Homo sapiens: one gene and its partners. The protein of the gene in region 1 purifies or fractionates together with the protein of each later gene. This does not show direct contact. Each region holds a gene or a part of one and is shown in the gene's direction. Other genes may lie near its edges. The genes, in order: EIF2S1, STRN and POP1.

Region 1 (3,653 bases):
GATAATCTACCATGCAGGATTGTTGTGAGGGTTCAAGAAGATGTTTAAGCACCTAACATAGTTACTTGTATATGGTAGTCATACAGTAGATTAGATAGTTTTAATTTGTTCAGTGTGTGTGTGTGTGTGTGTGTGTGTGTGTGTCTTCTGTGACGATAGCCTCTTTCCTTAAACTAAATGAACATCTTAGTGAATTTTCCTATTCTGGAGAAGGAAAAGGAAGAAATAGGGGAAAGATAGGCATTTGACTACCTTTCATTTGGATAATTGAAAATTATTAGTTCTCTCCAGTAAGGTAATGGAATATATATAATTACCTGATAATAAAAATTTATTTCTGAAAACAATTCAGAATCTCTCATCTTGTACAGATTGAGTATCCCTTATCCCCAAATCCAAAATGCTCCAAAATCTGAAACTTTTGAGCACCAACATGACACTCAAAGGAAATGTTCATTGGAGCATTTCAGATTTTGGATTTTCAGATTCGGGATGCTCTAACTAGTAAATACATTGCAAATATTCCAAAATCTGAAATCCAAAACACTTTTGGTCCCAAGCATTTCTGATGAGGGATACTCAGCCTTGTAATACTTATGCAGTATTTTGTTGATAGGATTTTAGTAGGAAATAATTATAAGTATGCCAATCAAACACTTAATTTGGTCTTCAAAGCTGGTTACAATAGTACAGTGGCATCTGGACAGAGATGATTTTTTCACAATTTTTTTGTACAGGATATATTGATTTGTCAAAAAGAAGAGTTTCTCCAGAGGAAGCAATCAAATGTGAAGACAAATTCACAAAATCCAAAACTGTAAGTTGATCTTTGAGTCAAATTAGTCCACTATCTGTGTGTTTAATAAATAATTTGAAATCTTAATTTCATACTGCTACTACCTTAAAGTATTGCTTATGATCTAATATTCTCAAATTAGTACTAGAAGTGTTTTGAAGCCGTTTTAGGTTAAATTAACTGTGGGTGACTTCAACTGCTTTAACTTGTTTACAGTTGGAATGCCTCATAAAATACGGGGTTTTTTTGTTTGTTTAAATAGAAATGAGGTCTTTCTATTTTGTCCAGGTTGGTCTCAGACCCTGAGCTTCAAGTGATCCTTGAGCCTCAGCCCTCCAAAGTGCTGGGATTACAGAAGTGAGCCAATGCACTTGGCCAAAATACAGTTCTTGATTTTCAACCCTGTTCTGGGATGAGGGTAACGGAGACAACCAGCTGTTATATGTTAAGAATGAACAGGGGTTTATAAAATGTCTGTGAATCCAGGAAAGCAAGGCAGAGGCCTGTTACTAGTTTTGGTTTTTTTCCCCCTCCACTAGCGTGTTAGGATTATTTCTTTTTGCATTCTTATTTTTGCTATTACTTCCTGCTTGTCATCCACAGTAAGCAGCAGCAAAGCAAAGATAGCCATTTAATTTCTTCTGTCAGTATTTCTCTTTTCTCAGGTCCTGTTTAAGTTATCCTTCATCCTCTACATCCTCAGTTCTGTGTGTGTGTGTGTGTGTGTGTGTGTGTGTGTGTGTGTGTGTGTGTGTGTCACAAAGTCTTTCCCAGACTGGAGTGTAGTGGCGCAATCTCAACTTACTGCAACCACCTCCTCCTGGGCTCAAGCGATCCTCTCGCCTCTGCCTCCCGGAATGTTTGAGATTACAGGCGTAAGCCAGTGTGCCCAGCCTATCCTCAGTTCTTAGTGGTACTGTTTGTATTGCTTCTGTTTTCTTTGCCCTTCTCTGGTGTCTGTTCTTTTCTGCCATGAGTGTTTCTGTCCTCAAGATAAAATATCAAAAAAAAAAAAAAGTTTCAATGAAGAGATTTTAAAAAATCTTGCTTAATCCCAGTAAGAGAGAAAATAAAGGTCTAAAAGCCATCAGTTACCCAAATCATTTCCTTTGTTTTACTGATGTATTTACAGTTATGCAGTGTGGTTTACACATTTGAAAACACTGTCAGTAAAATATCTTCTTAATAAACTCTAGGACCTTACCACTTAGAATGTAGTCTCTAAACTAGCAGCATTGACATCACCTGTTTTTTTAGAAATACAGACTCTCAGGTCCTACTAACTTTTGAGAAGCACTTTTCTGGGAAAATTTCATATTTTTTTGTCTCCTTAGGATATTGTTAAAATGAGTGTGTTAATAGATCTTATTGAGATGTTAAAATGGAAGAGTTATTCAGTGTCAGTACCTTTTCTCACTCAATTTTTATGTGTAACTATGATGAAGACCTTAATACTTTTTGTCTACACCCTGTTAATTTTAGGAGGTAAGAAAAAGTTTGGCAGGTGGGTAAGATGACAGAAAAAAAATTTTTTTTATCGTGATTCTCTCCTCAGGGAGTAATAATAACAACTTGTATTTGTATAGCCGTTTTCCATTTATAGTGTGTGGTTTCTATATATTTGATCTATGCGAGCACTCTGTAGTAAGGAGAGATGCTAGTTTCTTCTTTTTCCAGAGGAGGAAACAAGTTCAGAGATACTGTGTTACTGTCAAGACTTGATCCAGGTCTTAGGACCCTAAATTGTATACTATCTCTACTTTTTATACCCACTTAAAGTGAGTATTTCCCTATGGAGATCTTTTATTGTTAAGGAATTATTGTAGCCAAATTATGTTATTTACTAAAATGTAAAAACATTTTTTATAAATCTCTTATCTTTGAATTGTTGAGCTTTTCATTTTATTTCTAGGTTTATAGCATTCTTCGTCATGTTGCTGAGGTGTTAGAATACACCAAGGATGAGCAGCTGGAAAGCCTATTCCAGAGGACTGCCTGGGTCTTTGATGACAAGTACAAGAGACCTGGATATGGTGCCTATGATGCATTTAAGCATGCAGTCTCGTAAGAATACCTTCTTGACTCTCCTTCTACCTTGATATCACAACTCTTGGCCTGATATTTAACAGCATAGCATCCATGTATAAAATACTTGCCAAATTTAGATTAAAATATTTTGTATTGGCCAGTAAATGGGCCAATCCTATATGGTCAAGTCTGTGTAGTTTTATGTATCATAGTTATGTAGATTCATAAACCATATGGTTTATCTCACACATTTTCCTTTCCTAGTTATTGTCCTAAGTGGCTATGGGACTAAAGAGCATGTCTCACCAAAAACTATAACCTCTTGTTTTCTCTACCTCTTTTGACTCTCCTTTGACTTTCAGCCCACACCACTTTAGCCAGTCTTCCATGTAGCCTTAGCCTGGGCCTTACTATCACCGGGATTTGCTCTGCCACTAAAATCTTTAATTCACACTTTCTGTTCTTTTGCCCCTGCCTCCTATTCATCTAGCTCCCAGTTGGTCCTATTATTTGTCATCTTAATTCTGTATGTTAGGATCTGATTCCAAACCTTTTTTCTCCCTGTCTTTTCGCCATTTCCTGCCTTTTCTCTCTTATCCAACATAGGCACACCATGATACATCATTTTAACGACTTTGTTGCCATTATTGTGAGCTTTTGCCTTGTTTTTCCTTCCATCCATCCAGCCTTGGATCAATGTTCCTGCCTTCTCTGTACTTGTAGACTGCTGGGTGCTACTAGGAAAAATCAGTCTTGCAGGTTGGTCCACTGCATATTCATGGTCTCCAGCCTCAGCTGTTCCACATTCTCTCTGCTCCTGGTCAGTTCT
Region 2 (3,653 bases), on another chromosome or scaffold:
TTATTTGGCTCTTTAAGCCACTTCCTTTACATGTGGAGCAGGTGAACTCCATTGTCATATGGTATAATTTTGTCAGCAGGTTCATTTTTCATTCTACTCATATTCTTGATAATTTCATAATCTTTATATTTTAGAAAGGTTATAGAGGCTTTAATCTTTTAAAACGTATCCTATTATTTGTCTCTTCAGTTCAGTGTTTCTCAACCTTAGCTATAATCTTAGAATAATCAGAGGGAATGAATACTAATTCCCTGGACTCTACCCCAGATCAATTAAATCAGAATCTTAGGAATGAGGACCCCTAGCATTAGTATTTTTTGAGCTCCCCAGTATACAGCAAGGATTGAGAACCACTGCTTTAGTTGTTTTTTTCTGTTTTTACATTATCTATAAAAGTTTGGTGATTTCAACACTTTTATTAGTATTCCCTATATGGATGGCTTTTTATAGAATTTGGGATATAATTTCTTTTTCCATTGTTCTTTCTGATGATAGCATTTTATTTTTAGGCAGTAGAATATTATAATTTGAATCACCTCCTTCTGACTGAGATGTAATGACAGAGTAATCTTTGAGCTGGAATGAACTTTGGAAATAATCAGCTCAGTTAGGTAAAGTGAGGTTCAGAGGGAGGCTGAATGACCAAGAATGAAATAGGTTTTGTACAAGCTGTCACTTACATCTCCAGATATCTTTACAGTTTTATTTTTTCATATTTTTTGTCTAGGGGCCAGGCTAATCATCTGTATCATTCCAATTTGAGTATATGTACTGCTACAGCCAGCACTCTTTACAGTTTTCTTTAAAGCCCTTTCAGATACACTGTACCATTTAAACTGTACAACCTTCTGAGGTAAGCAGAGCCACACTGATGCTTATTTATTTATTTTTTTTAGATAACAGGCATAAAGATTTTACTGTGTTTTACTGCTTTCTAGCTTATTTTATTGGTTGCATTTAAGATTTTCTCTGTCTTTGGTGTTATGTAGTTTCATTATGATGTGTCACAGTATAGATTTCTTTTTCTTTTTTTGAGATGGAGTCTAGCTGTGTCGCCCAGGCTGGAGTGCAGTGGCACAATCTCGGCTCACTGCAACCTCCGCCTCCTGGGTTCAAGCAATTCTCCTGCCTCAGCCTCCCGAGTAGCTGGGACTACAGACGCCCGCCACCATGCCCTGCTAATTTTTTGTATTTTTGGTAGAGATGGGGTTTCACTGTGTCAGCTAGGATGGTCTCTATCTGACCTCGTGATCCGCCCGCCTCAGCCTCCCAAGTGTTGGGATTAGAGGCGTGAGCTACCACACCCAGCCTATATTTCTTTTTATTTTGTTTGGGACTTCATTAGACTCCTTGAATTTGTGGATTGGCTTCTCATTAGTTCTGCAGATTTCTCAGTTGCTATCTTGTTAGGTTTGTCCTCGATTGCATTTTCCTTTCTTCTCCTTTTGGGTTTTTGATTACATGATCTTAGGGCTTCTCCATTATCTGCTCTGTATTTTCCATCTTTTTATCTCTCCATGCTTTATTCTCGATAATTTATTCTGACTTATTTTCCAGTCTGTGAATGACATATCTTCCACTCCATTAATTTTCTCTTCAGTTGAGTCTGATTTGTTAAAACCATCCACTGAATTTTTAGTTTTGGTTATTGTTGAAGTTCATTTTGGTTTCTTTTCAAATCTGCTCGGTCATTTCTTAAAAAAATATTGTTCTGTTCTCTGCAGGTATTTTCAGTGTCATCTTTAATTCTTTAAACATAGTAAGTAGTTATTTTTTAGTTAGTGTCTTTGCGTTTCCTTTATCTGAGGTCTTAGAGGTGCCTTTGTGTGGTCTGTTGTCTCTGCTGGTTCTTGTTCATGACGACGTGTTCCCTTGTATCCTTAGTTTACCTTTGTGTGCCGCCTGCTGTCCTTGAAAAACTGTGAGACTAGACAGGCACGGTGGCTCATGCTTGTAATACCAGCACTTTGGGAGGCTGAGGCGGGCAGATCACCTGAGGTCCGGAGTTCAAGACCAGCTTGGCCAACATGGTGAAACCCCGTCTCTACTAAAAATATAAAAATTAGCCAGGTGTGTTGGCACATGCTTGTAATCCCAGTTTCTCAGGAGGCTGAGGCAGGAGAATCACTTGAACCCAGGAGGCGGAGCTTGCAGTGAGCCAAGATCGCGCCACTGTACTCCAGCCTGGGCAACAGAGTGAGACTGTCTCAAAAAAAAAAAAAAAAAAAAAATTAGCTGGGCGTCGTGATGGGCGCCTGTAATCCCAGCTACTCGGGGGGCTGAGGCAGGAGAATCACCTGAACCTGGGAGGCAGAGGTTGCAGTGAGCCGAGATTGCACCACTGCAATCCAGCCTGGGCAACAGAGACTCCACCTCAAAAAAAAAAAAAAAAAAAAAAAAAAAAGACAAAAAGAAGAACTATGAGACTAATCTGAGCTCTCAAATAAAGGTATCTTCTTCAGAAAGGTTTTTTTTTGTTTGTTTTTTGTTTTTTACATTTCCTTCTGGTAGATGTCTAGAGTTATTACCAGTCTGGGGCCACTTTATTTTTTATTTTTATTTTTTGAGATGGTCTTACTGTCACCCAGGCTGGAGTGCAGTGGTGTGATCTTGGCTTACTGCAACCTCTGCCTTCCAGGTTCCAGCGATTCTTGTGCCTCAGCCTCCGGAGTGGCTGGGACTATAGGTGTGCACCACCACGCCTGGCTAATTTTTGTATTTTTAGTAGAGACGAGGTTTTGCCATGTTGGCCAGGCTTGTCTTGAACCCCTGGCCTCAAGTGATCTGCCCGCCTCCGCCTCCCAAAGTGCTGGAATTACAGACGTGAGCCACTGCCAGGCCTGGAATCACTTTAAAGTAAATGCATTACTTAAGATGTTTGGGCCACCCAGCTGATGTGAATTTTGGTTGTGAATACATTTGAGGGCCAATATACTTCTGTTTTGTCTTTGCTTTGAAGACATAAGCCCTTTAGGGATCTAGCTAAATGTGAGGTATATCACCTATTAGACTGTCCACTCTGGAGGGGTAGGGTGTTTGATTTTTGCTCCTTGAGTCCTGCAAGGCTGTTTGTTGTGATTGGTCAATATCCTAAGGGCAAAAATGGCTTTTTGTTCCTTTACCTCACTGGGTTCCCATTTTCCCTTTTATTTTGGCCAGATAATTCCTTCCTATTTTTGTGTTGCTTTTAAGAAAATTGTGAAAATATTTTGTCCAGAATTTTTGGCTGCGTTCAGTAGAAGAATTGTTGTGGGGCACCATAACTGGAAACTGAATTCTCTTATTTTACTTTCAAAATCTGACAAATAAGAATGGCCCTACTAATTTTTGGGGGAGAAATAATGTTGACAGACAGCACTTCTTTATCAAGAGATGTGCCTATTTAGTCCTGAACTTTATTTCAAATCTACTTTTCTTTGAATGGTAAAGGGAGACCTACAGTTTTTCTCCAAAATCTTGATAACTGAAGCAGAGTTTAAAACAAACAAAACCCTTTGCTATGCAGTCAATGAAAGGTGTTTGAAAGTTCAGATAATCTGGATAGAGTCCCCTTTGCCCACCTGCTATCTCCTTGATGTCAGCTATACTTTTGATTTGCTAATGTGTGTAGCATCCAGGTTTCAATTCTGGGCCATTAGAAATAAAATTGTCCT
Region 3 (3,653 bases), on another chromosome or scaffold:
GGCTGAGGCAGGAGAATCGCTTGAACCTGGGAGGTGGAGGTTACAGTGAGCTGAGATCATGACACTGCACTCCAGCCTGAAGACAGAGTGAGACTGTGTCTCAAAAAAAAAAAAAAAGATACACATGATGCTCTCTCCACTCCCATTTTGATCAAATTGCTTTTGTCAGCTCTTTTGATAGTCATTATCTAAATAGTAAATGAGCTGAATTAAAAACAGATACAGTAGACCCTTATTATTTTTGAGTTTCCTATTTGCAAGTTTGCCTACTTGCCAAAGCTTATTTGTAACCCCAATATTAATACCCATGAAGCTTTGGCTATCATTTGTGGACATACATAGAGCAGGAAAAATTTGAGTTTCCCTGTGTTTACGTTCCCAGCCGAGCTTCCCAGCTGTCATGCAGAAATGGGCAGAGGATGGAGGCAGTATAAGGGCAGGGCAGTACAGTGCAGGAAGCTCCAGCTCTCCTGGGGTTTGAATCTCAGCCCTGGGGCAGCCTCATGCAGGTCACTTAGCATTTCTAGACTTCATTTTCTCTTTTGTAAAATAAAGGAAATAAACTCTACCAGGAGGAGTTGTTTTTTGGATTTAAGATTATAATATGGCCAGGGGCGGTGGCTCACACCTGTAATCCCAGCACTTTCAGAGGCTGAGGCGGGCGGATCACCTGAAGTCAGGAGTTCGAGACCAGAGTGGCCAACATGGCGAAACTCCGTCTCTACTAGAAATACAAAAATTAGCCAGACATGGTGGTGTGTGCCTGTAGTCCCTGCCACTTGGGAGGCTGAGGCAGGAGAATTGCTTGAACCGGGAGGTGGAGGTTGCAGTGAGCCAAGATCGTGCCACTGCACTCCAGCCTGGGTGACAGTGAGACTGTCCCAAAAAAAAGGAAAAAAAAAAAGATTATAATCTATGTGAGATGAAGATATGTATGTATCCCCACTAGGAGGAATGGTTCAGTATTCACTAATTCATTGACGTAATTCAGGGACGTATGAAACATGACTACTATAAATAATGAAAATTGGCTATGCATATTTTAGAGCTGGTATATTTTATTTCTACCTTAACATCAATGATTATTATACTTCTGTGTTTCCTAAGAGAAGTGCAGTATAGTCATCATATCTGTATTTCACTGGTGTGCTGATTTTAGAACCTTATGAAGTGATAGGAAGATCACAGTTGTTCATTAGGGCAGCGGTAGAAAGTGCTAATTTGGGAAGACAGCAAAAGCAAGTGTCCAAGGACTTGTTTGGAGTGCTTTAAAAAACTGCATTGGGTCTGATTAAGTAAATTTTAGAGTCAAGTTCATAAGGTCTAGATTCAGATCCTACAGTTGATGCCTACCATGCCATATGATAAGGCTTTCACATTTTTTTTATCTCATTTAAACCTCACAATGTTCTAAGATTTATAGTGGCTTAATAATTAACACCACAATTGAAATAAGCAGAAACACTATAAAATTCTCTACTGATCTCTCCCTTAATTTACAGACAGTTTTTTTTTTTTTTTTTTTTTTTTGAGGCAGAGTCTTGCTCTGTCACCCAGGCTGGAGTGCAATGGTGCGATCTCGGCTCACTGCAACCTCCACCTCCTGGGTTCAAGCGATTCTCCTGCCTCAGCCTCCTGAGTAGCTGAGACTACAGGCGTGTGCTGCCACTCTTGGCTAATTTTTGTATTTTTAGTAGAGACAGGGTTTCACCATATTGGCCATGCTGGTGTCAAACTCCTAACCTCAAGTGATCCACCTGCTTCGGCCTCCCAAAGTGCTGGGATTACAGGCGTGAGCCACTGTACCCGGCCACAGACAGATATTTAATGTTGTCTTATAGTCATAATGCCCAGACACTTGTATGGAAATGTTGCCTTTTTTTTGGAGATGGAGTCTTGCTCTGTTGCCTGGGCTGGAGTGCAGTGGTGCGATCTTGGCCCACTGCAACCTCTGCCTCCCGGGTTCAAGCAATTATCCTGCCTCAGCCTCCCGAGTAGCTGGGACTACAGTCACATGCTGCCACACCCAGCTAATTTTTTGTATTTAGTAGAGACGGGGTTTTACCATGTTGCCCAGGCTAGTCTTGAACTCCTGAGCTCAGGCAATCCACCCACCTTGGCCTCCCAAAGTGCTGGGATTACAGACATGAGCTACTGTGCCTGGCTGGAAATTTTGCTTTTTAAAGTTTTAAGACAGGATCCCACTCTGTCACCCATGCTGAAGGGTAATGGCACAATCGTGGCTCACTTCAACCTTGACCTCCTGGGCTCAGGTGATCCTCCCACCTCAGCTTCCCGAGTAACTGGGGCTACAAGCATGTGCCATTATGCCCAGCAAATTTTTTTTTTTTTTTTTGGTAGAGACAGGGTTTTGCCACGTTGACCAGTTAGTCTCAAACTCCTGGACTCAAGTGATCTGCCCACCTTGGCCTCTCAAAGTTCTGGGATTAGAGGTGTGAGCCACCACATCCATCCTGGAACTTTGCTTTTAGTTATTTATTTAGTATAGTGGCTCTCAATTTGAGTGTGGCAGAGAGTTAGGATAAAAGACTGTACACAATCATGTGGATTATAGTATTAAGGGAGTGTCGTTTGGGCTGCTGTAACAAAATACAGGTTGAGCATTCCTAATCCAAAAATCTGAAGTCTAAAATGCTCCAAAATCCAAAACTTTTTGAGCGCCGACATGACATGACAGGTGGAAAATTGCACATCCGACCTCATGTGATGGGTCACAGTCAGAATGAAGGCATATAACACACAGTTTATTCAGCATTCCCATGGGAAAAAAGATGTTCCCAGCCCCCTTCAGCTGTGATATAAATATTTCCAAGCACTCCCAGATTTCACCACGTAAGCACACCCACAAAGACAAATAAAATACATGTAATTTTTACTGTTAAATACTTACATGTGAGTAAGTGTAAGAAAGTGATTGCTTATCAGTAGCATATAGATTCAGAGTCAGGAAGGATGCTGATGCCAGCCAACCACAGATTGTCCACAGGGTGGCTGAGATAGTGGCACCTTTGCTTTCTGATGGTTCAAGTATACAATGTGCAAAAAGTTTCATGCACAAATTATTAAAAATATTGTATAAAATTACCTTCAGGCTGTGTATGATAAGGCGAAAGAAGTGTAATTGAATTTTGTCTTTAGACTTGTGTTCTATCCTCAAGATATCTCATTTTATATATATACGAATATTCCAAAATCCAAAAAAATTGGAATTTGATACACTTCTGGTCCCAGTTATTTCAGATGAGGGATACACAACCTGTATCTTACTGGGTAGCTTATAAATAACAAATGTATTTCTCACAGTTCTGAGGGCTGAAAAGTCCAAGATGAAGGAGCGGGCAGGTTTGGTGACTGGTGTGGGCCTGCCTTCTGGTTCATATACAGCACCTTTTCACTGGTTCTCACATGGTGGAAGGAGCGAGGGTCTCTGTGAGCACTCCTTTATAAGGATACTAATCTCATTCATGAAGGCTCTACCCTCATGACCTAATCGCCTCCTAAAGGCCCCACCTCCTAATACCATCACCTCGGGGGTTAGGATTTCAACACTGGAATTTTGGGGGACATAAGCATTCAGACCATAGCAGGGAGCTTAGATTTGAAATTCATGTTGCACCGTTTATAGGAGAAAA

Evidence for each region.
Region 2: the proteins of EIF2S1 (region 1) and STRN fractionate together in Homo sapiens (co-fractionation; one large-scale study listed by BioGRID). This does not show direct contact.
Region 3: the proteins of EIF2S1 (region 1) and POP1 fractionate together in Homo sapiens (co-fractionation; one large-scale study listed by BioGRID). This does not show direct contact.

What each region holds. Positions count from the first base shown.
Region 1 is NC_000014.9:67,373,731-67,377,383, forward strand, and holds part of EIF2S1 (eukaryotic translation initiation factor 2 subunit 1), read left to right. Parts: intron 1-737; coding exon 738-817; intron 818-2,708; coding exon 2,709-2,860; intron 2,861-3,653. UniProt on the Homo sapiens protein: Member of the eIF2 complex that functions in the early steps of protein synthesis by forming a ternary complex with GTP and initiator tRNA. This complex binds to a 40S ribosomal subunit, followed by mRNA binding to form a 43S pre-initiation complex (43S PIC).
Region 2 is NC_000002.12:36,956,496-36,960,148, reverse strand, and holds part of STRN (striatin), read left to right. Parts: intron 1-3,653. UniProt on the Homo sapiens protein: Calmodulin-binding scaffolding protein which is the center of the striatin-interacting phosphatase and kinase (STRIPAK) complexes.
Region 3 is NC_000008.11:98,123,674-98,127,326, forward strand, and holds part of POP1 (ribonucleases P/MRP protein subunit POP1), read left to right. Parts: intron 1-3,653. UniProt on the Homo sapiens protein: Component of ribonuclease P, a ribonucleoprotein complex that generates mature tRNA molecules by cleaving their 5'-ends. Also a component of the MRP ribonuclease complex, which cleaves pre-rRNA sequences.